7 separate regions of the Homo sapiens genome follow, and regions 1, 2, 3, 4, 5 and 7 are each reported to be linked to region 6. Evidence: microRNA targets listed by miRTarBase, many of them from high-throughput screens and not tested one by one. Region 6 holds a microRNA gene; each other region holds the end of a gene's coding sequence.

The links. Region 6 holds the annotated microRNA hsa-miR-4500 (UGAGGUAGUAGUUUCUU, at 1,591-1,607, opposite strand). A microRNA usually pairs through its seed, bases 2 to 8, with sites in the 3' UTR of a target mRNA and lowers its output. Matches are read on the target gene's strand: a 7mer-m8 pairs with bases 2 to 8, a 7mer-A1 pairs with bases 2 to 7 and ends in A, and an 8mer does both.
Region 1: miRTarBase lists THEM6 as a target of hsa-miR-4500. Seed matches in the 3' UTR shown: 7mer-m8 at 2,991-2,997.
Region 2: the mRNA of PM20D2 is a reported target of hsa-miR-4500. Seed matches in the 3' UTR shown: 7mer-A1 at 3,657-3,663.
Region 3: the mRNA of SEMA4C is a reported target of hsa-miR-4500. Seed matches in the 3' UTR shown: 8mer at 590-597.
Region 4: miRTarBase lists COLEC12 as a target of hsa-miR-4500. The part of its 3' UTR that is shown has no 7-base or 8-base seed match.
Region 5: the mRNA of FBXW2 is a reported target of hsa-miR-4500. Seed matches in the 3' UTR shown: 8mer at 785-792.
Region 7: miRTarBase lists GNG5 as a target of hsa-miR-4500. The part of its 3' UTR that is shown has no 7-base or 8-base seed match.

Annotation. Positions count from the first base shown.
Region 1 is chr8:142,735,014-142,739,080 of GRCh38, reverse strand. It overlaps THEM6 (thioesterase superfamily member 6), which reads right to left. Exons shown (of 2, transcript NM_016647.3): 2 at 2,154-3,755. The coding sequence ends at 3,642. Among named protein-coding and RNA genes, the nearest start is that of SLURP1, 5.4 kb to the left of the region's middle. RefSeq lists an enhancer at 126-692.
Region 2 is chr6:89,162,017-89,166,077 of GRCh38, reverse strand. It overlaps PM20D2 (peptidase M20 domain containing 2), which reads right to left. Exons shown (of 7, transcript NM_001010853.3): 7 at 513-3,969. The coding sequence ends at 3,815. Among named protein-coding and RNA genes, the nearest start is that of PM20D2, 18 kb to the right of the region's middle.
Region 3 is chr2:96,857,082-96,861,148 of GRCh38, reverse strand. SEMA4C (semaphorin 4C) reads left to right here. Exons shown (of 15, transcript NM_017789.5): 15 at 1-1,431. The coding sequence ends at 523. It overlaps ANKRD39 (ankyrin repeat domain 39), which reads left to right and starts at 3,133. Exons shown (of 4, transcript NM_016466.6): 1 at 3,133-3,261. The coding sequence starts at 3,162. RefSeq lists silencers at 2,603-3,272, 3,303-3,472.
Region 4 is chr18:316,207-320,273 of GRCh38, forward strand. COLEC12 (collectin subfamily member 12) reads right to left here. Exons shown (of 10, transcript NM_130386.3): 10 at 531-3,858. The coding sequence ends at 3,839. Among named protein-coding and RNA genes, the nearest start is that of THOC1, 50 kb to the left of the region's middle.
Region 5 is chr9:120,761,203-120,765,269 of GRCh38, forward strand. It overlaps FBXW2 (F-box and WD repeat domain containing 2), which reads right to left. Exons shown (of 8, transcript NM_012164.4): 8 at 1-3,645. The coding sequence ends at 3,357. Among named protein-coding and RNA genes, the nearest start is that of FBXW2, 30 kb to the right of the region's middle.
Region 6 is chr13:87,617,081-87,621,147 of GRCh38, forward strand. MIR4500 (microRNA 4500) reads right to left here and starts at 1,660; the gene lies at 1,585-1,660. All of the region lies in intron 1 of LOC124900338 (formin-like protein 5), which reads right to left. All of the region lies in intron 1 of MIR4500HG (MIR4500 host gene), which reads right to left.
Region 7 is chr1:84,498,564-84,502,618 of GRCh38, reverse strand. GNG5 (G protein subunit gamma 5) reads left to right here. Exons shown (of 4, transcript NM_005274.3): 3 at 649-793. The coding sequence ends at 774. Among named protein-coding and RNA genes, the nearest start is that of SPATA1, 5.8 kb to the left of the region's middle.

The DNA of each region.
Region 1 (4,067 bases), not on the chromosome of region 6:
GAGGTCAGACCAGCCAGCGCTAGTCTTCCGCAGCTTTAAGAAATCTCTAAAGGAGAGGGGTGTGCAGACCGCAGGGCGTCCCTCCCCGCCCTCAGGAGCAAGACCCTCCACCTCCCCAAGGGTGCCCCCAACTCGCAGGTGTCCAGAGGGGAAGTCATGCGGGGAGCGGCGGCCTGGGCCTGGGACGAATCAGCCCCTTTGGCCTGCCTCGTTGAGCCCCTGGCGGCCATACTGGGAATTCCCTGCCCTAGTCTGTTTCCCTATCCATGAGGTGGGCGATGGTCCTGCTGTCCCAGAATTCCGGACACCAGGCACAGTAGAACTCCACTCAGCAAGGCCTCAGATGTGGGGATCTGTGTCCCTGGGCCCTGAGGGGACACAACAGTGGCCAGTCAGCTGACTGAGCCCAGAGGCGGTGGCTGGATGCTGAGACTGAGCAGGCAACTGACCTAGGGTGAGCCCCGGGGACACCCACCAAAGCAGTCGTGACTCTGTCCACCTGGCCATCAGAGGGCACAGTGCCTCCTCCCCCAGGACGACGGACCCATGCACAGCCACCACCCCAGGACCTCCGGACACACTCCCATACCCTGTACCTGTCCCTTCTTCACCAGCATCCACCAAGGGCTTCCTGGGCCCGACACCTGGACACTGTGCAGACACCTCCGGGGGTGGGGGCGGCTGGGGCAGAAATTCTGCAGCTGTTGGCCTTGGGGGAAGGACGCGGGCCGAAGCAGTTGCTGCCCTCTAACTTCTCCGAGTGGCAGGCTCACAGGAGCAGAGTGGGCTCCAGTGGCTCCGCCAGGACAAGGCACTGGTTCACTTCCAATCCCAGCCACCCATTCCCTGACCCGGGCCAGTCCTGTCGTCAGCCCGTCCTCCAAAAACAAGACCAAGAGAGGGCCCTGCTGGCTCAAACCTTCCTCTGAGCCAGCCTATGACAGCCCAGGGTGTTCAGCTTCTGCATGGAGAGAGAAGCCCCAGAGGCTTGCGGGTGCTGCCCATTCAACCACCTTGAAGCTTGCCCGTTGCCTGCGTGCACGTGCGCACACACACACACACACACACAAATGCACACAGGCACGCACATCCATATGCGCACTGGATACACTCATTCCTAGTCCAGTCACTGAGCCCTACTCCCTATCCAGGCCAATGTGCCTTCCACGACCCAGAGGTAGCTGCTGAGCCAGGGACCGCAGTGGCATCATCACATGGTGCCCTCCCAAGGCCCAGGCACCCTGTCCTGTGGCCCCCGCCCTGCTCCAGGGCTCAGGCAGATGGTCAGGACCATCAGCTGGACGGCATCCCTACAGCTTCATCTGCAGCCCCACTGGGAAGCTTGTCTGGCAACACTCAGCTCACACACCTGTGGCGACCCCACGAGCCACCTCCCCCAAGGACCCCAGAGAAAGCACAGAGGCTTCTGGCCAACCAGTCTGGCTACAGACCCCAGATTTGCTGAGCAAGTTTGCTTCCCCTCCCCAGCCCTACTGCCCCATCACTAAATGCCGGTTTCATAGCTGTTTCCAACTGCCCACTCCTTCCCTGGCCCTCAGAGCCTTCTGGACCCTCCCAGGAAGGTGGTCACAGCATGGACGTGGCCACACCCCGCCTCACTCAACTTTATGTCCCGGAGGGTCCCACTTCTCCCCACCCCTTTTGAAGGGCCTGCAGAACAGCCCCCATGCTCTCTCTGCCTCCTGTCCACCCACCAGTCCATTGACCTCTGCCCCCAATGGCTACCAGCACCCTGCCCGAGGCTCTGGGAGCCTGGAGGGCCAGACCCAGAGTCTGAGGCATGACCGCCAGGGTAATCCCTGAAGGAGGGAAACCGGGAACCTGGCGCTGGCATCTGTAGATGGGGCTGCAAGCCTCGAGAGCTGGGAACCAGGAGGGCCGGAGCAGGAAGGGCTGGCTCCCCAGGGGGCTTTGGACAGCACCTTCTTGGCCTCAGTCCTATGCCCCATGGGATGAGGACAAGCCCTGCCCTGCCAGCCTGATCCCTAAGTTCACGGGAGCCCAACAAACCTGGATAGCCCCCCATGCCAGACACCCATCTTGGGAATGTGCCCCAGCTTCCCTGGTCCCACCTCCGCCCCTGCATGGATGGTGGTGGTGGTAGCTCAGAAACAAGGCCCTCCCCAGCACGCTTGCAATGAAAACCCTTTAATGTTGGGCTTTCTTTAAATAAAACAGAAAGGTTGCAGCTTTCCCATGGTGGCTGTAAGGCAAGAACAGCAGTGAGGGCGGGCGTGTTCTATCGGGCAGTGCTGCAGCCCTTGACTCTGGCTCAAGGTGGGCTTCCTGGAGGCAGCGGCAAGGAGGCAGTTCTGGATGTGCAGGCACAGATGTAGGGGAACAGGCAAGCGGGCACAGGGCCCTGAGCTGACAAGCAGTGACCCCTGCACCCAGCTAGATGGGGCACCCCCTCTCTGGGAGCTGAGGGCATCAGCTGGAGCCTCAGGCTGGGACCAGCCCCAACTTTGCCTTGGTGACTCTGGGCCATTCCAGGCCTCAGTTTCCCCAGCTGTAAGGTGAGGCATTAGGCAGGAGGGGGTGGCCCCAGCCAGTGTCCTAGTAGCCTGGTGTCTCCATTAGGGAGACCTGAGAAGCTGCCAGGAGAGGCTCTGCTAGCGCAAGGCAGGGCCGGCCCAGCAGCTGACAAGGAACATGCTGAATATAGAGGACAGAGGAGTTAAGAAGACGCCTGCCGGCCAGGCCAGAGAGGGGCAGCTCTAAGGGGGTACAGCGGCCTGTGGTGCTGTAGGCCCAGAAAGGGTGGGGATCAGCCCAAGTCACAGAGCATGGCCCTGGTGGGCGGCGAGGGGTGCGAGTGGACAAGGACACCCCTGCAGAGTCCCACCCCCACTCTATTCCCTCCAACAAGGGAACGCCCAGCAGGAAGCCTGCTGTCTTTCCAGGAGCCCCTGTGCCACCTAGTCTGACCCCTCTCAGCCACAAGGCTACCCTCCCGTCCAGCCTGACTGGAGGTAGAGGAGGAGGAGGAGGCAAGGCCGACTGCAGTGGGGAGCCCGGGTGCCCCGTCCTCTGTCAGCAAATGCCTCCCTTCCATCTGCCTCTAGCCCCGGCCTCTGACCACCCAGGCTCTGCCCCAGGCCTGCAACCACCTCAGCGGAAGCCAGAGGGGCTGCCTGGCAGATGCCGCTCTGACCCTTCAGGAGTGCCCACTGCACCTGAATCAGGCCCAGGCCCTGGAGAGCCCAGGCCTGTACCCAGGATGCTCTGGTCTGGCCCTGCCTCGGCCCTTGCAGTGGTCCGAGCCAGGATCTAGGCTCGGGAGGCACTTGTGGGTCCCTCTGCTCCAGGCACCATCCTCCCCTACCTAGGCCCACATGAGTGGCCTCATCGTAGGGCCAGGCAGGACTCTCCTTTGCCCATCCATCCCCACCTTGAGGGCAGAGCTGGGTCAGGATGCCAATGCCACTCCTCCTTCTGCCTAGCGTGGAGCCCAGCACAGAGGGGTATCAATAACTGGGGGGGCCCAGTGGGTGGAGCAGGGTGGGCCAGGCTGGTCAGGAGGCTACTCCAGCTGGAACAGAGTATGGCTGAGACTGCCCATCTGTGGGCAGCCCCCAGGCCCAGGATGGTGGCCAGGGCAGACGGTGTGAAGGTGGCGGTCACTGGTCCTTGGTGACATCACTGAGCCCACTCTCCATGCGGAGCAGCTGGCTGCTGGCCTCGTTGTAGGAGATCCAGTGCTGCAGATCAGCGGGCAGCTCAGGGGGCTCCACCTGCAGAGGACAGAAAGGGGACACCCAGCTAAGCTACGGCCTTCCCACCTCTGGGCCGCTGCCCACACTGCTCCCCAGCCCGTGACCTTCCAAGATCCCCTGCCCCGCCGCCTGCCATGCTTTGCCCATGCCTCCCCAGGCTCTGCACACTTGTGCTACCCCTGCATACCCACCTTGACACAGCCCCGCTTGTGCCTGGCCCGTCTCCCCTAGGGGCCATCCCCAGAACCCAGCCAGAAACCCGTGAAGTTGGCAGGTTGGGAAGGGCAGAGAGGAAATCCAGAGGCCTCAGGGTGACAGGGGACAGAGGGG
Region 2 (4,061 bases), not on the chromosome of region 6:
AGAAGATGAGGCTTCAGTGAGCCATGATCACAACACTGACTGTACTCCAGCCGGGGTGACAGTGAGAACCTGTCTCCAAAAATAAGAATAAAAATTAAAAACCAGTTTAAACAAAGAAACATGGACATTTGTGACTTTTCTCATATGAGGCACTTATACTTTAGCCAGGATCCAAAAACCTGTTCCATTGCATTTATGTTATTATATGGAATTACTCTGTATTAAATGTGTAAACTTTTTTTAAAAAAGGAAACTCAATACTATATGTATTTACCTCCTGCCATGTACAATTTGCACTGCAATTTTTTAGCTTCTGAGACTAGTGAAACATTCATTTTTAAACAAAAGAACTTAATTGTTCTTTTAAAATATTTGACACATAGTGGAAAAGCAAGTCAACATCTATGATACTGATGCGTAAGAAAAAGTATAGTATATCACAATGGATTTGGATGATTGTGCTTCATCTTCGTACATATATCTTCAGGTCATTAAAAAAGCAAGACAATTGCTATCAGATAAACATGTTTATTGTAGATTTTTCATACACATTTTATGTACCTATTATTACAAAAAAGCTTATAATCTGATGGTAGTAGACTGATTGCTTACTTGAAAATATTAACTTCATACATATCAAAATACACCATCCTCAACTATATAATTGGACTGCAAAATGCTTGATATGAAGTATGTAAAAAAATAAGCAGTTTATTATACCTTACAACCTTATAAAGGGTTGCTATCTAGTACAAAGATAACATTTATCTTATAACAAAAATTTGATAGTTTTAAAGGTTAGTATTGTGTAGGGTATTTTCCAAAAGACTAAAGAGATAACTCAGGTAAAAAGTTAGAAATGTATAAAACACCATCAGACAGGTTTTTAAAAAACAACATATTACAAAATTAGACAATCATCCTTAAAAAAAAAAACTTATTGTATCAATTTCTTTTGTTCAAAATGACTGACTTAAGTATTTTTAAATATTTCAGAAACACTTCCTCAAAAATTTTCAAGATGGTAGCTTTCAGATGTTCCCTCAGTCCCAATGTTGCTCAGATAAATAAATCTCGTGAGAACTTACCACCCACCACAAGCTTTCTGGGGCATGCAACAGTGTCTTTTCTTTTCTTTTTTTTTTTTTTTTTTTTACAGGCACAGAAACTCATCAATTTTATTTGGATAACAAAGGGTCTCCAAATTATATTGAAAAATAAATCCAAGTTAATATCACTCTTGTAAAAAAGTTGAGCACACTTTTCACAAACAATTTATGTAAAAGAGAAGAAAATACACATAATTTTACATAATATCTTAAACTCTTTTATTCCCTACCATAGACATTTTGTCTTGTTTTCTTTCAGTTTTCTACAATTTCCAACTTGTACCTGTGTTTAATACTGCTTTAGTGTGCTAAAGACATTAACTGATTGCTTTCCTAAATCTAAGGATTATATAGTTTTAGTATAAATATATATCATATATTTTCGTAAAACTTTGACAAAACCAAATAAGCAAGCCTTGTTTTAAGTCCACGCTCCTGCCACTGTTTACAAAATTTGATTTAATGATCAAAAAACTATTGGTTGTCACTCTTCTGTTACAACAATCTTCCTTGTGAACTGCCACCCAGTTTTTACATAATAATAACAAGCAATAGAAAAACCAAAGAAATTATGTTAATCTTAGCTCTTCCTTTGCAAGTGTCTTTTCTTCTTACACCCAGTGCTTAGAAATAGGCACTCCTCAACCAGTGTTCACTGAATTCAACTGCTGAAATTGTAACAGTTAAATTATCAACACAACTCTTAATAAATAAACATTCCTTTGGGAAATTGTGGGAAATCAAAACACTTTTAAGTTTATACAAGTATTCATAAACATAAAATATTCTAGTTTATCCTAATGCCCTAGCTCTTATGAGTGCTATAGAGGCAATTAAAAAGGGAAAATTTCTTGAGTAGTTCACATGTGGAGAATTTGTTAAAACCGAAAAGCAGTCCAAAATTTTTAAAAGGCATACTAAATATTAGCTATACTCACTATTACATGGTATATAGCAATTTAGTAATTCATAGTACCACATATTTTACTTTAAAAGCAGGTCCCATATTAAGGCCTGCTTTTAAAATTGCCACTAAAAAGAAAATATTTTCAATTTGTATATTTAAACCATTAATTTAGATAACATCTTTTAAAGTCTACAAATTTAACATAGCCAAGAGTTGGTATTTGAGAAAAAGGTTTCAGTACAGGGTGTGAACAATGAAAAATTATAAAGGCATGTAATAAAAATGTTCCATAAAAACAAAGATACCTCAAGCAGGTCCACCTATACCTCTAGTTTAGTTTAGAAACTAATTCAGTATTTTAAGAATCATATAATTTTAAACTTTGCACTAAGCCTAACCTTTTTAAAAAATGGTCAGGGCCAGGTGCAGTGCCTCAAGCCTGTAATCCCAGTGCTTTAGGAGGCTGAGGTGGGAGGACTGCTTGAGTCCAGGAGTTCGAGACTGCAGTGAGCTGTGATTACACCACTGCACTCCAGCCTGGGAGAGCAAGAACCTGCCCATTAAAAAACCAAACAAAAATGGGCAGGTGTGGTGTCTCATACCTGAAATCCCAACACTTTGGGAGGCCAAGACAGGAGGATTGCTTGAGCCCAGGAGTTTGAGGCCAGCCTGGAAGCTACAGCGAGCCCCTGTCTCTATTATGTAAAAAAATAAAAATTTTTTTAAAAAAGAGGTTTTCTTATGTGTACCTGAAGCAAAGTAGTAAGTATATCTTTTCTTCTCCACGTTGTACAAGAGATGACTGTAAACACAAAATTAAAACTCATCTTAGGATCATGGTCCATCCACGAAGCTACTTTAAACTCTGATGATTCCAAGCAAGGAAGCAATATTTGCTTATTCAAAAAGTACTGAATATTCAGAGTAAGCAATATGCTAGATACTGTAACAATTTAAAAATACCAACACACATGTGTATTAAAAAGACACTGGCAGGCCGGGTGCGGTGGCTCATGCCTGTAATCCCAGCACTTTAGGAGGCCGAGGCAGGTGCATCACCTGAGGTCAGGAGTTCGAGACCAGCCTGGCCAACATGGTGAAATGCCGTCTCTACTAAAAATACAAAAATTAGCTGGGCATGGTGCCACACACCTGTAATCCCAGCTACTTGGTAGGCTGAGGCAGGAGAATCACTTGAACCTGGGAGGCAGAGGTTGCAGTGAGCCGAGATTGTGCCACTACACTTCAGCCTGGGCAACAGAGCGAGGCTCTATCTTAAAACAAAAAAAGGAAAGACACTGGCTTCAAATATACAATCTGGTAGAGGAATTAATATACGATTAGAGAACAAGTTTACCACCCTATACCACAAAACACTCTCATGGGTGTCAATTCTGAATATAAGGTTTGAAATCTCTTAAGCTTTTAAAAATACACATAACATTTAAGGCTTACAAAAAGGTTTACTAACATATTTTATAAAAATGATGCCATGTATCCTCCAGGTTAAGAAATGGTATCACTACTGTGAAGGTGAGTGGTTGCGGGGTAAAAAAAAAGAAAGAATGGCATCACATACCAGCTCCTGTAATATCATAATCCTATCAAGTACGGATTTGCAAAAATTTTCACTTTAGATATGAGGTAATTAATATGTTTTCTCCACACCCTGTCCTCACTTATCAGGTAAAAAGAATTTTACTCCTTTAAGATTAAAAAACAAGCATGCCTTCATTAAAAGAGATTAAAAGAAAAAAATCATCACGTCTTCTTGATTTATAAGTGGCCCCTAAGTCTTTTATTCTACTGCATTTACAAACTGTTCTTCTTGAAGTTTCAGTTTAAAGTCCTCTCTGATTCCTTCCAGTAACTCTGGTTTAAAAATAACATCCAGTGCCGTCATTGCCAGAGCTTTGGCCGTCCGCAGAGTGTAGAACTGAGCTTCCTGTGACCCTAAAAGGTAGAGAAAATAAAATACCTCCTTACTTATTTAAGCTGTATTTAATTTCACAGGTTAGCTACCCGTATCTCAACTGGCTCTCCAA
Region 3 (4,067 bases), not on the chromosome of region 6:
AAACCTGGGGCTGGTGTGGCTGGCGGTGGTGGCCCTGGGGGCTGTGTGCCTGGTGCTGCTGCTGCTGGTGCTGTCATTGCGCCGGCGGCTGCGGGAAGAGCTGGAGAAAGGGGCCAAGGCTACTGAGAGGACCTTGGTGTACCCCCTGGAGCTGCCCAAGGAGCCCACCAGTCCCCCCTTCCGGCCCTGTCCTGAACCAGATGAGAAACTTTGGGATCCTGTCGGTTACTACTATTCAGATGGCTCCCTTAAGATAGTACCTGGGCATGCCCGGTGCCAGCCCGGTGGGGGGCCCCCTTCGCCACCTCCAGGCATCCCAGGCCAGCCTCTGCCTTCTCCAACTCGGCTTCACCTGGGGGGTGGGCGGAACTCAAATGCCAATGGTTACGTGCGCTTACAACTAGGAGGGGAGGACCGGGGAGGGCTCGGGCACCCCCTGCCTGAGCTCGCGGATGAACTGAGACGCAAACTGCAGCAACGCCAGCCACTGCCCGACTCCAACCCCGAGGAGTCATCAGTATGAGGGGAACCCCCACCGCGTCGGCGGGAAGCGTGGGAGGTGTAGCTCCTACTTTTGCACAGGCACCAGCTACCTCAGGGACATGGCACGGGCACCTGCTCTGTCTGGGACAGATACTGCCCAGCACCCACCCGGCCATGAGGACCTGCTCTGCTCAGCACGGGCACTGCCACTTGGTGTGGCTCACCAGGGCACCAGCCTCGCAGAAGGCATCTTCCTCCTCTCTGTGAATCACAGACACGCGGGACCCCAGCCGCCAAAACTTTTCAAGGCAGAAGTTTCAAGATGTGTGTTTGTCTGTATTTGCACATGTGTTTGTGTGTGTGTGTATGTGTGTGTGCACGCGCGTGCGCGCTTGTGGCATAGCCTTCCTGTTTCTGTCAAGTCTTCCCTTGGCCTGGGTCCTCCTGGTGAGTCATTGGAGCTATGAAGGGGAAGGGGTCGTATCACTTTGTCTCTCCTACCCCCACTGCCCCGAGTGTCGGGCAGCGATGTACATATGGAGGTGGGGTGGACAGGGTGCTGTGCCCCTTCAGAGGGAGTGCAGGGCTTGGGGTGGGCCTAGTCCTGCTCCTAGGGCTGTGAATGTTTTCAGGGTGGGGGGAGGGAGATGGAGCCTCCTGTGTGTTTGGGGGGAAGGGTGGGTGGGGCCTCCCACTTGGCCCCGGGGTTCAGTGGTATTTTATACTTGCCTTCTTCCTGTACAGGGCTGGGAAAGGCTGTGTGAGGGGAGAGAAGGGAGAGGGTGGGCCTGCTGTGGACAATGGCATACTCTCTTCCAGCCCTAGGAGGAGGGCTCCTAACAGTGTAACTTATTGTGTCCCCGCGTATTTATTTGTTGTAAATATTTGAGTATTTTTATATTGACAAATAAAATGGAGAAAATGAAACGATTGCTCTGATGGGGCTAAGATGTTTGGGCTAAAGCCTTTCTGGGTACCAAGAGGGAAGGCTCTCTGGGTGGAGGGAGGCTGGACTGGGCCTCCCCCACAATCCCAGGGCAGCCACCACTTTTGTGGTCCCTGCCTGCCTGTGGGAGGGGACAGCCCAGCTCTAGTGTTTTCCCACAGTGGTGGCTGCGGGGCTGGGAACGAGACCATGGCCATAGCCCCTTGGGAGCCAGCCTTGGCTTCTGGCCAGAAGGAGAAGTCAGGGCACTGGGAGTCCAGGGGAGAAGCGGAGTGGTGGGGGGGGTGCCTTCCCAGAACTCAAGACGGGTAGTGGGAATGAGGGGCCAAAGGAGTGGAAGGTTGTGGAGATGAGATCATTGCTTGTGTGAGGATGGGGTTCTCAACCTGCTTAGGGGAGGAGAAACGACTTCCAGCCTTCTACCCACCAGGAATGCTAGGGTCTTCCGTGCCCCAACTAGCGGGGGAAGGAACTTACATCCAGTGTGCACCAGACCACTGTCCTGGAGAGGGACTGGCACAGAACCCAACCTGCATTCTGTCGTTCATGCACTCTTTCTAAGCCGATCAGGCGGTCTCCCCTGTACACTTGATCGTGGCTTGAGCAGGCAGCTGCCTGGGTTTTAACTGGGAATTGAGAAGGCTGGGGTCCGCTGAGGAGCACGCTGCGAAGGTGCGCGGTCCGCAGACGGCCTCCCGGTGGGTTTTGATCATGAAGACCGATTCCGTAAACTCAGCGCCCACTGTGGGGCCAGGGGGTTCTGCACAAACCAAGGCCCTGCCCCTGCCCTGAGGTGGAGCTACAGGCAGGACAAGTTGTGGCCACCTGCCCCTTGCTGGACTTGTAAGGAAGAGCAGGGTACGGGGAGGGGCGTCTCGAGGCCTTTCCAGCCGTCACTTTGCCGCTGCCCCGGGGGCGGTCGGCCTTGGTCCGGGGTGGTGCCAGGAAGAGGGGCTAAAAACCGTGGAGCGCGCCCCGGCCCGATGGCTCACGCCTGTAATCCCAGCACTTTGGGAGGCCAAGGTGAGCGGATCACGAGGTCAAGAGATCGAGACCATCCTGGCGAAACCCCGTCTCTACTAAAAAATACAAAAAATTAGCCGGGCGTGGTGGCGGGCGCCTGTAGTCCCAGCTACTCAGGAGTCTGACGCAGGAGAATCGCTTGAACCCGGGAGGCGGAGGTTGCAGTGAGCCGAGATCGCGCCACTGCACACAAGTCTGGGTGACAGCGAGACTCCGTCTCAAAAAAAAAAAAAAAAAAAAAAAAGACCGCGGAGCGCGTGGCGCCTCCCTGCCCTAGGGACTAGGGGCGGTAAAGAGAGGAGGCTGCGAGGTCGCTGGACGGCTGGGTCATGGCGAAGGTAACGGGAAAGCTCCCGACCGGACCCAGCTGCCTCATCCCCACACCCTGCAAGGCCAGGCGGCCCGGCGGCCCTCCAGCGGCGCGCGGCTCCCGGAACCCAGCGCCTCAGTCCTCGCTTGGCCTTGGACGCCCTCGCGCGGAGGCCTCGGGGCACGGCCGGGCGCAACAAGCCCCGCCCTACCGTTGCAATTGGTTCTCGAGCTAAGGCCTAGGCGTTTGATTGGTCAGCTTTGGCGAGAAGGCGGGACTAGGGCGACAGCCGCGGACGCCGAGCGGCCAGATCAGGGACGCGGGGCGGGCCCTGCGTCCGCCCCTCCCGCCGAGGCTGAGCCTGAGACCCGGGGCGGATCGACTGACGCCGGGGCCGGGATGGCGACGCCTCGGCCCTGCGCGGACGGGCCCTGCTGCTCGCATCCCAGCGCGGTGCTCGGCGTACAGCAGACGCTGGAGGAGATGGACTTCGAGAGGGGTGAGGCTGCCGCGCGGCCCTCGTGGTTCTCACCAGGCCCCGGCCCAAGGAGGAGGCGTGGGGCCAAGGAGAGGCGGATGAACGGGGCCCCGAGAGCTTGGGGCTTGGGGCTTGGGGCCTGGTGCGGGAAGGCGGGCGGGACCCACGGTTCCCGTGTACTGAGAGCCTCCCAGGGCCCCGCACGAGCTCGGCCAGGAGACACCTGTCCCGCGGGCGGCGGGGAAGCGGAAGCACTGGTTTCCGTAACCCTCCCGAGTAGCGGGGGACGACCTCCCCTGGGAGACACAAGCCTGCTCAGGTGTTTGAGAGAGGGCCCGGGGAGCAGAATCTGCACCAGGGGCATTGCACCCAACCTGAGGGGCATGGAGCTGCAGGCCTGGGGGCTGCGCGGTGAAGGAGAGCAGTGGCCTTTGTTTAGCCCCGGGTGCCAGGCAGCCTGCATGCTTTAAAGATGGCAAGAGCTTCGCACGGGCAGCCTTCGAGGCAGGGCACAGTATCTCATCTGTGGGACCCAGAGAGGTAACACGTTTGGCCCAGATTATACAGAGATTATGGTGCCAATAGGAACAGAGGAAGGCGGGAAACCAGGGTGCTTCTTGTGAGCGTTGGGAACCACTGTGCTGTGTCATCTGCCCTTGCGGATGCAGCCCTCGATTGCCACTGCTGTGTAAGCATTCTCATGGAACTCTTCCTTTACCGTGGTTCTGGCACCTGCCTACTTCCCTCCGCCCCTCCTACCGCTGTCCTCTGCACTGCTGAAGTGGTTGCCTCAGAGGGTCTTTCTGCTTCCACGCTTGCCTTCCTAC
Region 4 (4,067 bases), not on the chromosome of region 6:
GTCCCACCTGGAAAGAAGGCTAGACTTGGAGTTGGGAACCAGGTACCAAGTGCCTTACGGCCCCTGCAGGTATGTCCTGAGCCCAACCAGGATTGTTTGGAAGATTTTAAGCCGAGGGTGAGAGGTAGGATGGATTCAGATTTGGGGACCTGAGTGGGGAACCTGATCAGATTTGCTTTTTGGAAAGTGACTGTGACAGATACGTGAGCCATGGGCAAGTCTTCAACCTGAGCCTCAGTTTCCTCATTTCTCAAGCAGGAACAATAGATGTGCGTGAAGACTGGAAGCGATAATGTATGTGAAAAGTGGTATATGTCAACTATTATTACATGACTTTGAGTCACGAATGAGCTAACATGCTTACGTTCTCAAGAAGAGATCAGTTTCGTCATCTGCTTGGTATTGTTTCTTGATTTATACAGCTGTTTCCTCAAGCATTTTTCTTTAAATGGGAGCAGCTATTACTATTTTTTGTCTGTTTCAGCTTCAACTCTGTTACAAATTGGAAGGAACGAGTTGTTGAACATTGATCGTAGAAAAGGAAAAGAAAGTTTTTATTTTTTGCCTTGTTGTGCATTCATTCTTTCAAAAGCTGTTTAGAGGAAAAAACATTTTCTATCTTCTCATAGTAGTAAGTAGCAACTCAGGTGCCTGAAGACCCCATCATATTTTACTAAAACTCTCCACTCCAAAAGAGCATCAGTTGTGTGTAGGTGAATAGAAAGCTGGTGTGTAGGCCGGGCACGGTGGCTCACACCTGTAATCCCAGCACTTTGGGAGGCCAAGGCGGGTGGATCACCTGAGGTCAGGAGTTTGAGACCAGCCTGGCCAAAATGGCGAAACCGTGTCTCTACTAAAAACACAAAAATTAGCCTGGCATGGTGGCACGCACCTGTAGTCCCTAAGCTACTGCAGAGGCTGAGGCGGGAGAGTCGCTTGAACCTGGGAGGCAGAGATTGCAGTGAGCCGAGATCGCGCCACCGCACTCCAGCCTGGGTGACAGAGCGAGACTCTGTCTTAAAAACAAAAACAAACAAAAAAGAAACCTGGTATGTAAGTAGCTAAATATAGAGACGTATAGGAGGCATCTTGTAATGTGTGATTATTCATTTGATTTTATTCAGTGTGCTATTAAGAAGGGCCCTTCCTTCTAAAGAAAATTAGAACATTTTCAAAGCTTGCGTCTGAATCCTGTCTCACTACTCAGTAATGGAGTGACCCAGGAAACCGCATCACCTCCCCAAGCCCCAGTCCCTGTGAAATGGGGAGTGTAGTAAGACCTGCTTCCTAGGGCTGTTGGGAGGATCAGGTGAGACAATCTGATTGAAGGACTTGGACCAGTGCCTGATAAATAATAAGCACTTGGTAAGTTATTATTAGGGCTGGGAGAGCAATAACTTCAGCTGCGAAAGCTAATACTAGTCTATCCTGATGACGGCATCAGATACTTATTTTCAAGTTTCTTCTGAAGACAAATTTTAATTGACACTTGAAAACCAGGAAGAGCATGAAAAAGAGGACTCAGTGTAGCCTCTAAAGGCTGTTGAGCCTGAAGAGGTGTTGGAATGCCGTGCCCGCCTTGTGGTGCAGGCTTCAGCAGTTTAGGCCCAGAGGACTGTGGGTCCCACCTGCCTGACAGCAGGGCACACAGGTGCTGAGCAGTTGGCCATTACTGGGCTGTGAAAACAGCATGAATGGGGAATGGAGACTGTGGGCAAAGCAGTACAGTCCACTTGTTCGCAGGTGGGAAAGTCAAACTCTGTCTTTATTCTTTTTTTTTTTTCTTTTTGAGATGAGTCTCGCTCTGTCGCCCAGGCTGGAGTGCAGTGGCGCGATCTCGGCTCACTGCAAGCTCCGCTTCCTGGGTTCACGCCATTCTCCTGCCTCAGCCTCCCGAGTAGCTGGGACTACAGGCGCCCGCCACCGCGCCCGGCTAATTTTTTTTTTGTATTTTTAGTAGAGACGGGGTTTCACCGTGTTAGCCAGGATGGTCTCGATCTCCTGACCTTGTGATCCGTCCGCCTCGGCCTCCCAAAGTGCTGGGATTACAGGCGTGAGCCACCGCGCCCGGCTGTCTTTATTCTTTTACCATTTTATTTGGGATAAGTAGCAGCACTGCCTGGGAAGACCCTTGGGAGGGAGAAGGAATCTGTTGGATGGAAATCTTACCTTTGAGCATCAGTTATATTTAATGCCTAGTTTCAGCCCTTTTCATATTAGACTTTCCAACAGCAAGTCAAGGAAAGTCAAGGAGCGAAAGGAAGATGGGCTCAGAGGAAAGGTTTTTTTTTTTTTTTTTTTTTTGAGATGGAGTCTTGCTCTGTCACCGAGGCTGGAGTGCAGTGGTGCGATCTTGGCTCACTGCAATCTCTGCCTCCTGGGCTCAAGCGATTCTCCTGCCTCAGCCTCCTGAGTAGCTGGGATTACAGGCATGTGCCACTACACCCGGCTAATTTTCTTATTTTTAGTAGAGATGGGGTTTTGCCACGTTGGCCAGGCTGGTCTCGAACTCCTGACCTCAAGTCATCTGCCTGCCTCGGCCTCCCAAAGTGCTGGGATTACAGGCATGAGCCACTGCGCCCGGCTGGAAAGGTTCTTTTAAGAGTTCCACAAAGTGGCCAAAAGTTTATTCTTGCATTTTATCATGCGTATGCCTTGGAGTTATGTTTTTGGAATATGACTTAAGAAAACAAACTTTCCAGGTAACACGTAGCCGGTTCCCATCTTTCTAGCATCTCTGCCTTTGGCTGATGTGACGCCATACGTTCCTGACAGTTAATGTTGGCTCTGTAGGGATCTGATGCCAAGTACAGTCATAGCTCAGCCATGACACAGGGCCTTCCAGATAGGCCAGATTCAGTGCCCTTCCCAACAGATGCCTCTCCATCCCCCACACCTCCCGACTCCACCAAAATGAAGTGGAAGCACGTCTTGAGTTGCCCATTTCTTCTGTGTCTGGTCAGGCACACGTCAAGAATGTTGGCTGGTGATGGGCTCAAGGCAGGCACAGCCCGCTTCACTGTGCATGTGTGCAGGCTTGATTGACACTGGCAAAATCTGCAAGGATATTTCTAGACATTCCAAGTGATTGGTTCCTCTGAGGAAATGAAACATTAAAAAAAAAAAAAAAAAAAAATATATATATATATATATATATACACATGTATATTTAATTATTTTTTTAAAGCCACAATTGAAAAAATTCTTTGCCACTGGGTAGAATTAAATCTGACAGGAAACCCTAGGAGTTTTTATTAGTACCATTATTGTTTTCTTTGGCTCCATGTATTATGTCGGTAAAATGACAAAAAAAAAAAAAGGAAAAAAATTGTAAAAGACAAATATTTTGTACAAAAATACAAAGTTTTAAAAGCTCTTTAAGTATATTTCATATTATTACTAATAGTTGGCCTATATATCTGTATGTCTGCATATTTTTCCTACACTTGGGATTTTAGAAATGTATGGCACTGTTTACACAGTATATGCTTAAGTTCTTCCCATAACTCAACGACCAATGATAACCTTTTTCTGATTGGAGTGTTCCATACTTTGGAAGACATAATTTGTATAATCGCACGGTTACTGACGGAGGAGAATCTATGTGATTCAGTCCATGTGCACAATGAAAATCAGCATATCACCCTGGGGAACATTTTAGTTCCCAAGTCTTTGGGTAATGACGGATGGTAAAAAACACTAGCTGTCAATTTTTTTTCAGTAATTGGTTTTCAGTGCTTTTTTTTTTTCAATCTGATGAGAAGGTGATGCAATTAGAAAGGAGTGTCCTTTGCCTTTGAGAGCTGAAAATTTGCTCATGTGATCCCATCACAGTCCGTTATAATGCAGATGACAGTACTAAAAGAGAGAAATAAGAATGGGCATTAGTTTTTCTTAAATAATAAAGTTAATGTGCAATTCAAAAAAAGGGAACGTGTATTTTTATAGGACAGTGTCTAAAATACATCATTCAACAATGCTTATATTTTCAAAGAAATGTCTAGAAGATCTTATTTGGATGAAAAGATAAGTTTCATTTTGAAAAGCCAAGTTTCATTTTGAAAAGC
Region 5 (4,067 bases), not on the chromosome of region 6:
CTTTGGAATGATGACAGAATCTATCAGAAACTTCACACATCCACTCAGCTCTCCTGGATCCCTGTCCACACCATGAAGCCTGAAGTTGTTATGATGGCCTTTATGAACCTGAAAGAAGCCGCTGGCTTCCACCACACCACAGTGTCACCCAAGAAATCCAATCCTTGTAAGAAAGGATAGGGCTTATCTTCTCATGACTTAGAATTTTTCAGAAATGAGAATATTCACAAAAGAGGGAAAGGCAATTCCCTTACCTATGCGCTAAGGAAGCCAAAGTCAGTGTGTGCAAGAGCTAGCTCTCAAAGGCAATGAAAGGAGAGTAAAGAATAGTTTTAGTTATCCCCTATCCACTTCTCATTCTGACTCCCCACTTTGCTTTCTTTTGCAAAAAGGATGAGCTAGTTTTCCATTTTTATAAAAACTGGCGATAGTATGAATAAACCCAGCATCTATAAAGTAGTTGAATAAAATCTCAGGCCAAATAAAGGCCTCCATAAGGAAGAACTGACATTAGGACTCCAATTACTGCCTGAAGTTCTGCTGTCAAAATCCAGCTGCATGATGATGCCACTGTACTCCAGCCTGTATGACAGAGCAAGACTGCCTAGGAAAAAAAAAAAATTCCAGCGGCACCAAGTACCACCTTGATGACTTCTGTATTCACCACTAAAAACTGAAATAGAACATACTATATACAGCTTCAAGTTTGTCACTTTTTAATAAAACTTTTCCCACAAATGATTATAATTACTTGCCCTTTGAAGCTATTGGATAGATCTGAAAGTGAGGTAGGGTGGGGATGGTCATTAGATCAGTAATAGTTATCTGTTCAGGCTCGATAAAAAGTAAAAACTCGGCCAGGCGTGGTGGCTCACGCCTGTAATCCCAGCACTTTGGGAGGCCAAGGCAGGTGGATGACCTGAGGTCAGGAGTTCAAGACCAGCCTGGCCAACATGGTGGAACCCTGTCTCTACTAAAAATATAAAAATTAGTTGGGTGTCATGGCAGATGCTTGTAATCCCAGCTACTTAGGAGGCTGAGGCAGGAGAATCACTTGAACCCAGGAGGCGGAGGTTGCAGTGAGCCAAGATCGTGCCATTGCACTCCAGCCTGCGCAGTAAGAGCGAAACTCTGTCTCAAAAAAAAAAAAATAATAATAAAGTAAAAAGTCATTTACCATCATCATTGCCCAAAGTCTCCTGGGGCTTCTGCAAAATAGATTCAGTTGTGATTCCGGTTCTATTTCTAGAGTACTAAGCAGAGCTGATGCACAGAACTCAATGTGAGATAGATTAAACCCAGATTTTGTGGGATGGGGGAAGATATTGTTCTTTTGCTTAAACCCCACAGAGTTTCAACATGGATATTAATGATATCTGTCCTTGAAATTCACCATTAATTTCTATCAACTTCACAGCACTCAGAGGTCCAGAGTCTGGCTCTATGCTAATGCAGATTCTGCAAGAGATAGGTCCCCACTCTAGAGTTCACATCATTCTCAGCTCTGCCAGCAACCCTTTTTCTCACCTGTAAAATGGATATGCTTTATACTGGAGTCAGCAAGAAGGAATAACTCATGTTCCCAGACATAAGCTGTCACTGAGGTTCCAATTCTTATGTTCATCTTCAAACTACCTTCCTATTGGTCTGTGAATGAAATACATCCCTCCCCACCACCCTTGTAATACAAGGGGAGACAGCTGAAGAGCGGCTGAGATTTTTCTACTGCTTGCTCCCTCTACTCTCTCCCTGATTGTGACCACTAACATTTCCACTGCTGAATCACAAAATTACCTAACTTTAGAGAGGGAGGAGGACACAATCTGGCAACCCAGGGACATGTTTTGTTTGGCTCACCTTATTTCAAATTTTCTTTAATCAGTTGTAACGTTTTAAAAATCCAGGATTTCAAATAAAAATCTGGATTTCTAGCTCCTCCTGAAACAATGTGAAGACCTGCCAACCCTGGGCTTGCTTCTCCTAATGACAAAACAGAGCTGAATAACTGCCCTATTAGATCAACTTTCCAGGGGACAGCACAATCCTCCCCAGAATGTTTTACTCATTTATGTTACCTGCACGGCTCCCTTAGGCATTTGGGTTTGTGAGCCCTCATCTAGGACAATTCCCTCACTTAAAAGATGAAGAAAATGATGGTCTTAGAAGAGAAAGTTAACTTGCCTGAGGCTGCAGATTAAGTTAGAGGCAAAGGAGGAAGTTAGGTTGGGTTCAGGTATCCTTCTAGTATAGCATACTGTGTCCCTATTTAAACCATGGCTTCTATCAGCATTTCTTCAACCAATTACTTAAACTGTCTAAGTGGAATCAGCTATATTTTCTACATTTCCCTTTTATTCATCCTTTTCATATAATTGATGTTCTTATAGAAAACTCTGTAACAGTCATTTCATTTAAATATTATCCGACCTGAAAGAAACCATGAATCAGGGATCAGACAAAAATACATGATCAACTTTTACACATTTCAGTAGGTGAAGGACCAGAAAGAATCTTAGAAATCACTGAGCTTCATACCTGGCTGTACAGACAAGGAAGCTGGGACCCAGAGAGGGTGCAGAGTTCCAGGGTAAGAGGCCCGGTCTCTAACCTTCCAGCTCACTGCTCTTTTCTGCTATACCAGGGCACCGCTGTGCAGTCATCCAGGCTGCCGGGGACTAGCTTCCCCGACATGGCAACAAAAACTACAGAACTCGCTCACATCTTAAACATGGCCAACCTTGACTCTGCCAAGATATAAGGTTTAGAATGAGTTGCTAACATTCAATTTACAGAATTGGATTTGAACTGGAAGACAGACTTTCCTTAGCACTGGTATTTGGTGGAAGTTTATAAACTGGTATTTGGTGGAAGTTTTAACACTGGCTCTTATAAGAGCTAAACCCCGTGTGAGGAAAGTTGCTGTAACAACATCATAGCACCTTTGCTTCAACTTCAAAAGAAAAAAAGGCTATGGTAAAAAGCTTTAATAACAGACAATGTGATTTCATAGGCAACCAATTAGCAGATTAATGGATCATTTAACTTTCTTTACTTAAAACCAATACTCCACTCAAGAAAGATGAACCCAAAATGCATCCTCTAACACTGACCAACATAACTAAGTACAAATGAAGTCAATGGTGTACCCCATTAGCATGCTGCGTTGTATGTCAATAAAACAAGCCCTCCCCCACCCCGAGCCCTGGCCCCTGGCAAAACATAGATAAATGATTGTGCACTGCGTGATGATACCATTAGGTGAGAACTTTGGTTCATGCAGTCGGCTGCCGCAGAGGTTGCACCCAAAACCCGCAGCCCCGGCACCCAAAGTCAGTCAGCGGTGGTGGCTCATGGTGTCAGCCGTGCTCCTTCCACAACACCAGGTGAATACTGTGGTCAGGCATGCTGGTGGCAAAGACCAAGCCCGTGTCATTGTGCCCATCCAGTCCATTCAGCCAGGATGCTTCGCCTGCCAGGAAGCTTGAGCCTCTCTTTGATTTCCTGTACTCTGGCAGAGGCCAGCGACTAATCAGGCTCTCTGTCCGCAAGTCCATGATGTACAGGTAGCGGTTGTCAAACAGCAGGGCAAAGATATCTCCAAAGCCAAGCAAGGCCAAGTTTGCTATCTCAGGAGTCTTGATGACCCTACAAGGATGAGAGTTAGGGACTGTGAAAGAAGGCAACCTTGCTTCTGTTTATGCTACTGTAATCTTTTCTGGAGATATTTAAAACCAATATTAAATTCAAGCAAATTTAGAGTTAAATGTTTTTGATAAAAAGTAAAATATAAGGAGAAAAGCTCAGCCCACTTATAAAAAAGCCGGGAGCGGGAGAGGTGCGTTCAGTCATTATATAATATTGGCATGGAAGGGAAAGGTGGTGTTTGATCAAAGTTTTTTTTTTTTTTTTTGAGACAGGGTCTCACTGTGTTGCCCACACTGGAGTACAGGGGCGTGATCTCGGCTCACTGCATCCTCCACCTCCCAGGTTCAAGTGATTCTCCTGCTTCAGCCTCACAAGTAGCTGGGACTACAGACGGCTGCCACTGCACCTGGCTAATTTTTGTA
Region 6 (4,067 bases):
ATATAAGGTTATTGTGAAATTATTATCAAAATAGAAAGATAAAACTAAAATAAAAATTTTAGTAGAGAACTTGTGGAACGTAAAAAAGCAATACTTTCAAAAACCTTCTCGCATCCATAGTAGCAAGTTTGAGAAACACTACATAGTAGACACGGAGAAAAACTAGTTTTCATACAAGTACTTTTCAAGAAACTTTTTAATTTCACCACAGAACAATTTAAGTTTATGAATTAGAAACTCGAACCCATATTTTCCAGAAAAAAAATGGTAAAATTATAGTTTTGCACCCAGACCTTTACAACACAATTTAATTTATCTTGTAATATAGCTGAAAACTCTATTTTCAGTAGACAGTAGAAATTACTTCAGCAAAGTCTCTATTTTATTTTCAATGTATGAATATCAATTATGTAAATTCCTTCATGGTAGTTTCTGGAGGTATTGTAATAAGAATAATTAAACAAAAGCTCAAGAGTAGTACTTGACAGGATCTTTTTAAAATTAATGTTGAATGCAGGTGCCTGAGGAAAAGTAAATTTAAGTATTGAAGTGGAAGATACAGAACTTCTGTCAAAATGCTGAAAGGACCTGGTTACAAATGGAGGCTTAAAATGTTTATATTACTGATTGTTAATTATGTCTAATTTACTTAGAAAGTTAAGTCTCATCTGGGCATGGTGACTCTTATTCATAATCCCACCATTTTAGGAGGCTGAGGCAGAAGGATCACTTGAGCTCAGGAGTTTTAGATCAGCCTGGGCAAAATGGTGAAACCCTGTCTTTACAAACATTAAAAAAAGAAAAAAAATCAGTCAGGAGTAGTGATGTGTGCCTGTAGTCCCAGCAACATGGGAGGCTGTGTTGGGAGGATCACTTGAGCTTAGGAGGCCAAGGCTGGGCTGCAGTGAGCCACGATTGTGCCACTGCACTGTAGCCTGGGCAACAGAGTGAGACCCTGTCTTCAAAACTAAACAAAACAAAGACAAAGAAAGAACTATTGTTCCTAAAACTAGCCTGAAGCTTGTCGTCTATTATTGAGTTCTTATTTTAATCAAATAAAATTAGTACATGCCATTTTTTCTTAGTAATCTCCTCACAGCACTAGGAAAACTTCACTCTTTCAGACATCTCAAATATTTCTGACATTTTCCTTTTCTAAAACAAAACATGTTTATTACAAAACATACCATAACATAGACAGTCATATCTATAAAATGATGGAATTCTGCCATTAATGGATACTATTATATCTATCTTACTATTATGCCTCAAGCCATGCCAAGATGAAACATTTAGTATCTTTTTTTTCTTGATCTCAAACTCAGGGTGCTTCAGGTAAGGGGTAAATACTTTTCTATGTGACTGTAACCTAAACTTCCACAAGTCATCAAAACTACGTAAAAACGAATTCACATGTGTGGTAATAACATTACTACATCACATTTTTTACTGGCTCTTGTTTTCAGAAGCTTGCAGAGACTCTGTACTTTTGCAAATGTCCTCCCTGTTGTTGTTGTTGTTGTCATTGTTGTTGTTGTGGTTGTGGTTTTTAACTCAGGAGACTTTTTGCATGTGCTCACAAATAAGTTCAAGAAACTACTACCTCAGCCATTATGCGTTTGATCTACACTTTAGCTTCTGGGCAGTACTTTCTCTCCTGGGCTCTGCTATTGCCTCTACTGGAAAGCACCATATTATTAAGGCAAAAGTTTAGTTTTATGAAGGTGTCACTGCTTCTTCCAGACACAGGCGCCATTTGCATTAGGGATCATCTTGTGTATAAGTTATTAGGGATTGTCTTGTGTATAAGTTATCTTATCACTCTGGCTGCTCCTGACAATGTTGAATTTTACCAGAAACCTGTACTCCTGGAAAACAGCAAAGGTTAAAAAATCCCCCCAGTCTTGTGTCTTCCAGGAAATGGTTCACTGCAAAGAACCACACTTCTTCCTACGACTTATATAAGATTTATGGGTGCCTTCCTTATTTACCCATGACAAAGCTGGACACAGATCTTCTGAATTCCTATTCTTTGAGTCATATAAAATTAGTTGATGAGCAGTCAGGCACCCATCTTTGGTTGATGAACTTAGATTCCTATGTCTTAATCTCGATCAAAAAGTGTTCTTTAGGGAAGAATTTTGAGATATTTGGAACCGAATTCAATGTTTTACAAACGTACCTCTTATGTTTTTATAGCATCTATTGATATGCTATTCTAAGATGAGGACAAACACACCAATATAATTTAGTAAATAGTAGTTGATAAAAGTTCTATATCCACACAGCTATTTTAAGTGAGTCAGTTGCATCCTAAAGGAAAGAGAAAAAAATATTTAGAGCAAAAAGAAAGACAGATCTTTCTTTTTTTTTTCTGTCATAGCTATACGTTCTCTGGCTGACATACACTCATAATTCAGTATGTACTTATTGAATAAAGTCAGGAAGTTGTTGTGTAATGTAATGATATAATATGCTTCAGAGAATGAAAACAAACCAATTCTATATTACAAATCTGAAAATGGACAACCACTGGCAATAGACTTTCTATGTCATAAAAGTAAAGAAAAATATAGTTGGGTCTATTGTAGATTAATAGAGATTTAAGAACCAACACAACCAAATACAATGTGTGATTCTTGATTGACTCCAGGTGTGAGCAAATCAGCTATAAATACACTTTTAGAATATCTGAATATGCTCAAATATAGAATTTGTGGGTATTTTGTAATATTATGTGATTTGTCTCAATTATTTTAGCTGTAATAATAGCACTGCAGCAAAATTTGAGAATATTAATTTTTGGAGATATATGCTTGAAGTATTTAGAATGAAGTACCAATGTATCTATAATTTACTTTAAAAAGAACATATACCTAGTGATGCAAATATAGAAAAATAGAAACAGCTTTTGCATATAGACTTGGGTATAGAGTGTATTACACTCTGTATTTTTCCAAATGTGTAATAGAATGTCCATGCCTATCGTAAAAAAGATAGAATAGAAGGAAAATAAAATATTTGAATAAATAAGATAAAAATAATAAAGTATCTATATACCTACCACTTGCTCATTTCAAAAAGGAAAGACACTTAAAAAGTTTCCTTAACACACGTGAAGCTTCTGAGAGTAAGGGAGACAACAACGCCTCCTCTAGACAAAAATGTCAGAAGGAGAGCTCTGCAAATGCCTCCCTAGCCAAAGTAAGGTGAATGGTGTAGTTAGCCAAGGAGCAAGATCGGCATGTTCTCAAGGGCTAGCATCCTATTTTCCCTGAAATCTGTACCAAAATATCTTTAGTCCTTTAAAAAATACCAAAATTAGTTTTAATAAAAAATCCATGAGTTACTTAATATTATTCTATTGGTAAATATTTTTATAAACTTACAATAATTTCATAATAAAATTTTATGGTATAGATGTGTGCATGTGAGTGTGCGTGTGTATGTGAGTGTGTGTGTGTGTGTGTGTAAGTGATTGTTTCCTTAGGATAATTTCCTACTAGTAAAATTGCTGCACAAAAGGTCTGAACATTTTTGCATTTCTTAATTAAGGTTACAAAACAACTTTCTAGAAAATACAGACATAGTCATAAATGGAAATTAGCACAGTGGCTACCAAATATGCAACTTGCAATATGTAGGCATTACACAAAGAAAATGATATGCCTGGTTTTCTTATTTCATGCTCTAGCCCTATTAAGTAAGTAGACTTTACTACTAACACTTAACAGAATAAGAAAATAAGGCTTTAATTGTTTAGGTAATTTAAGTGTACACTGAAAGAAAATTATACACAGTTATCTATGTTAATTCTTCCCATCAAAATATATTTGATTTCTATCAACAGTTCTTGGAATATGCACCATTTCAACAGTGCATCTTATGGTTTTTAAGGGCTAATATAAGTGAAAAACTGTGTCTTACTGTTTTAAAGGTTGAGGATCTGTGTGTCTTCATTCATGGTTGCCTTTTTCCATCTTAATCACCTCCTCCACCTCCACTTGGACATCCATATGGTTCTTATGAATTTACAGCTGATATGTCTAAATTATTAATCTTTTATT
Region 7 (4,055 bases), not on the chromosome of region 6:
ACCCTCAGGTTTGCACTTGAACAGCCTATTATTAATAAGCAAGATGTGCTACGCTTTGCAAAAATCAACATAATTCTACTGTTTGTACTCAGTCATCTGATGCTTCTAGTAACCAAGCAAAAGAAAACATACTTAATTAAATCAGTCTTATTTGCAAGCACTAGTTTTAAGTATTAAGAGCTCACTAGGCTGGGCGTGGTGGCTCACACCTGTAATCTCAGCACTTTGGGAGGCCGAGGTGGGCGGATCACGAGGTCAAGAGAGAGAGACCATCCTGGCCAACACGGTGAAACCCCGTCTCTACTAAAAATAGAAAAACTAGCTGGGCGTGGTGACGTGCGCCTGTAGTCCCAGCTACTCAGGAGGCTGAGGCAGGAGAATCGCTTGAACCGAGGCGGAGGTTGCAGTGAGCCGAGATCGCACCACTGTACTCCAGCCTGGCAACAGAGTGAGACTCCGTCTCAAAAAAAAAAAAAAAAAAAAAAAGAGCTCACTATTTGACTTAAGTCTTCAATTATTATATAGTATCTTCTTTTGAAGCAAGAGAAGTACTGTTTTATTGTAAGTACAATATTTCCAAAGATTGAGAAAACCTTCATTAAAATGTTCTCACCATCTGGCACTTCCCCCCCTCTTTGTTATGTATAGGTTTCCCAGGCAGCTGCAGACTTGAAACAGTTCTGTCTGCAGAATGCTCAACATGACCCTCTGCTGACTGGAGTATCTTCAAGTACAAATCCCTTCAGACCCCAGAAAGTCTGTTCCTTTTTGTAGTAAAATGAATCTTTCAAAGGTAAGTTTCCTTAAATTTAAAACAAAAACCCACACTGTAGGAATAACTAGTCTTCTCTTTCTTTGCAGCACTTAAAAGATCATCCCATGCCCTTTCCTTTGGCCCTCCATTTCCAGTATTTTTCTGTTTTGCAAGGAAAGTGAGGATTCATGAAACTTGCTGACTTAGTAGCCATGAAGGCTAATCGTTTCTATTTTACCATAAAGAAGGTTAAGTAGAGGATTTAATAACCATAAAGAGGGTATAGGAGAGTTACTACAAAATCCCACTGCCGTAACAAGCCATGTGTTACTTTTTAGAGCATTGGCCTAATGGAGTCCCCAAGTACTAGTTTTGTTTTTGTGTACCTGGCAAATATTTAGACAGTTTTTAAAAAATCTGCAATGTTTATGGGGATAACTTAAAGTACTACCAACTGATTTGGATTAACTCTTGATGTTATTGCTCTAACTGAACCCAGCTGTAGAGCAGTATAGCAAAGATTGGGAATTGGAAATGCAAGAGAAAGTCAGATGTAATTGAGTAAGCCAGTGTGGTAGAGGCGTTTGGACTGAGGTAGAACAGACTTTATATTTTGTTCTCATTTGTTAGATTAAAGATAAAACATGAAGGAAATGCAGTATATAAGTTCTTGGTGGCAAACAGACAGTGGACTGAATTTCAGAGAATTAAAAACTAAAGACCCTGTTGGCTTTATTAAAGCATGCTTCAGTACATTAATTTGTGCCTTCCAGATCAAATGTCATGTGTACAAAATGTATGTTAATCTAAGAGATGTGACCAAAAACGTTTTGGATCATTTAAAATGTAACTGAAGGGTGCTGCCTTTTATAAATTCTTAGTACTTTAGTTAGGGAATGTACTCATTAGTATTGACCTATGAGAAGCAAACTTAAACTAATAGTACTTTTTTAAAAAAGATTTTGTATATGGCACACACCCCTTACTAACTTTCTGACTTCTCCAAAGTCCAGGAAGCTGCTTCCTAAAATACCTTGTTACATAGTTGTGCCCTCCTTAATTAAGCTTCCTAGACCTGGGAGTGTCCAGGAAGTCTGTATAAGTACATGTTTCCAGTAAATACAATGATTGGTTAAGATGTTTAAGTTTTTTGAAATACCAGGGGGAAAAAAAGCCCTTTGAAAACAGGTGTCATGTGCACAAAAATGCACATGAAGAAGTAATTCACTTTCATATTTAACAGTTTATTATAATATCCTTTGTTTCTGGTACTATTCATTTAATTCTTCATGGTAGTTTTTGGAAGTTTCATATTTTTATGGTTTATTAATGATTGTTTTTTTAACCTCAGTTCTTGTATTCACTTTACAGTGGTTTATTTTCATTTGAATAAAATACTGGGCAGCTGTTAATAGTTTTACTTCATAGGAATCTACAGATAAGTGTTTAAATGAATTGCTCAAGTTTAAAAATATGGCTGGGGGTAAGAACCCAGAAGGTAAAATAATGTCTATTAATCCCAGCAGTATAAGAAAACAGCTTTGTGGATATTAAGATTTGCAGCAGTTTGGGCTAGGAGAATAATAATTGGGCATCAAAGCATTGCTTCTCAAGCTTGAATATATGCAAATCACTTTGTTAAAATGCAAATTCTAATTCAGAAGGTCTGAGGTGAGTCCCTAGAACTTGCATTTCTTACAACTGCCCACCTACACTGATGCTGACAGTACTGGACCTACACTGAGTGGCATGAATGTAAAGAATCTACATTGGAGTTATGTATATAAATACAGTTTTATCACTGGAGTGCAGTGGCGCAGTCTCGGCTCACTGCAACCTCTGCCTCCAAGGTTCAAGTGCTCCTGCCTCAGCTTCCTGAGTAGCTGGGATTACAGGTGCACACCACCACGCCCGGCTACTTTTTGTATTTTTGGTAGAGACAGCGTTTCTCGAACGCCTGACCTCAGGTGATCTGCCCACCTCAGCCTCCCAAAATGCTGAGATTACAGGCGTGAGCCACCGTGCCCGGCCCTGTATTTCCTTTTAAGAGGAAATTTTACTATTTTTTTTGAGATTCCAGCTTTTGAAATTTTTCCTCTTTTACACAAAACAAAATAGAATAACACAGGATTAAAAACTGTTAATCAGTAGAACATGTATGCACAAAAAAATGCAGATAAGACGACAGGCTTATTGACAGTATTCGCCGTTTTTCATTCTGCCTTTTTTAAATGAATTTATTTCATTAAATACTCTTTGTAAACAAGATATTTAATGGTTGTACTAAACTATGATGGAATTATACTTCACTGAATATTTAAGTTTCCAAAATTTGAGGTTACAGTGAGGTGAAGATTTTGGTGAACATCTATATATACTTAGTACCTCTATTAAGTTTCTAGAAGTAAAAAGGAGTGAACGTTTAACATTTTTACAACGTTGTACTTGATATCCCCTGCCAATATAATACTTTGGCCTTCCACTAGAAACATGAGAATGTTTTTTCCTTGAGTCCTAACAAACCTTAGTCTTTTCTGTCACTATTTTAGGTGAGATTAAACATTTTTCACAGCATTCTGTTTATGCCTTTTCAACATTTTTGTCACAGACTATCTCAGATTAACACTTTTGTACCTTTCCATATCAATAACTAATCCTAAAGTTAGTATGCTCATGTTTTAATTTTTTAGTACACTGTTTTTCAATTTAATGTTTTCATTTTTTAAATCTTTTAGTTTATACTCTATTAAACTGAAATATTATGGTTTGAAAACATAACTTATTTTTTAAGGCATAACTTATAATAGCTTTGTATTCCATCATATGTAGAAACCTTCGTTTATCCATTCTCCTACGGAGTTATATTTAGGCTGTTTCAGTTCTTTGCTGTTAAAATACTAATACAGTCAGTATCCTTGTACATGTTTCTCTATGTCTGGGTTTATCTAGGTAACTAGAAGTGTGGTTGCATCCTTTACTTCACTAGATACTGCCAAACTGCCCTGCTAAATATAGTCTTGCTCATTTTTCTAAGGATGTTTGGATTTTTGATTTAAGAGAGTTTTATTAACCTTTTTTATTATATACAGAATGTATTTTGGCAGTAATCTTAGCAAGTTAATCTGTAAGTCTGTTTATAAAACAGGAATGACTTATACATCAGAGTGGTTGTGAAAATTAAGGGAAAGATTTTACTGTTACTGGACCATAGGCATTTCCCATCCTGCTTCTTTTAAGTTATTCATGAAAAAAATTAAAAACTATGTTCTTTGATACTTTACCCTAACTCACCTTTTTTTTT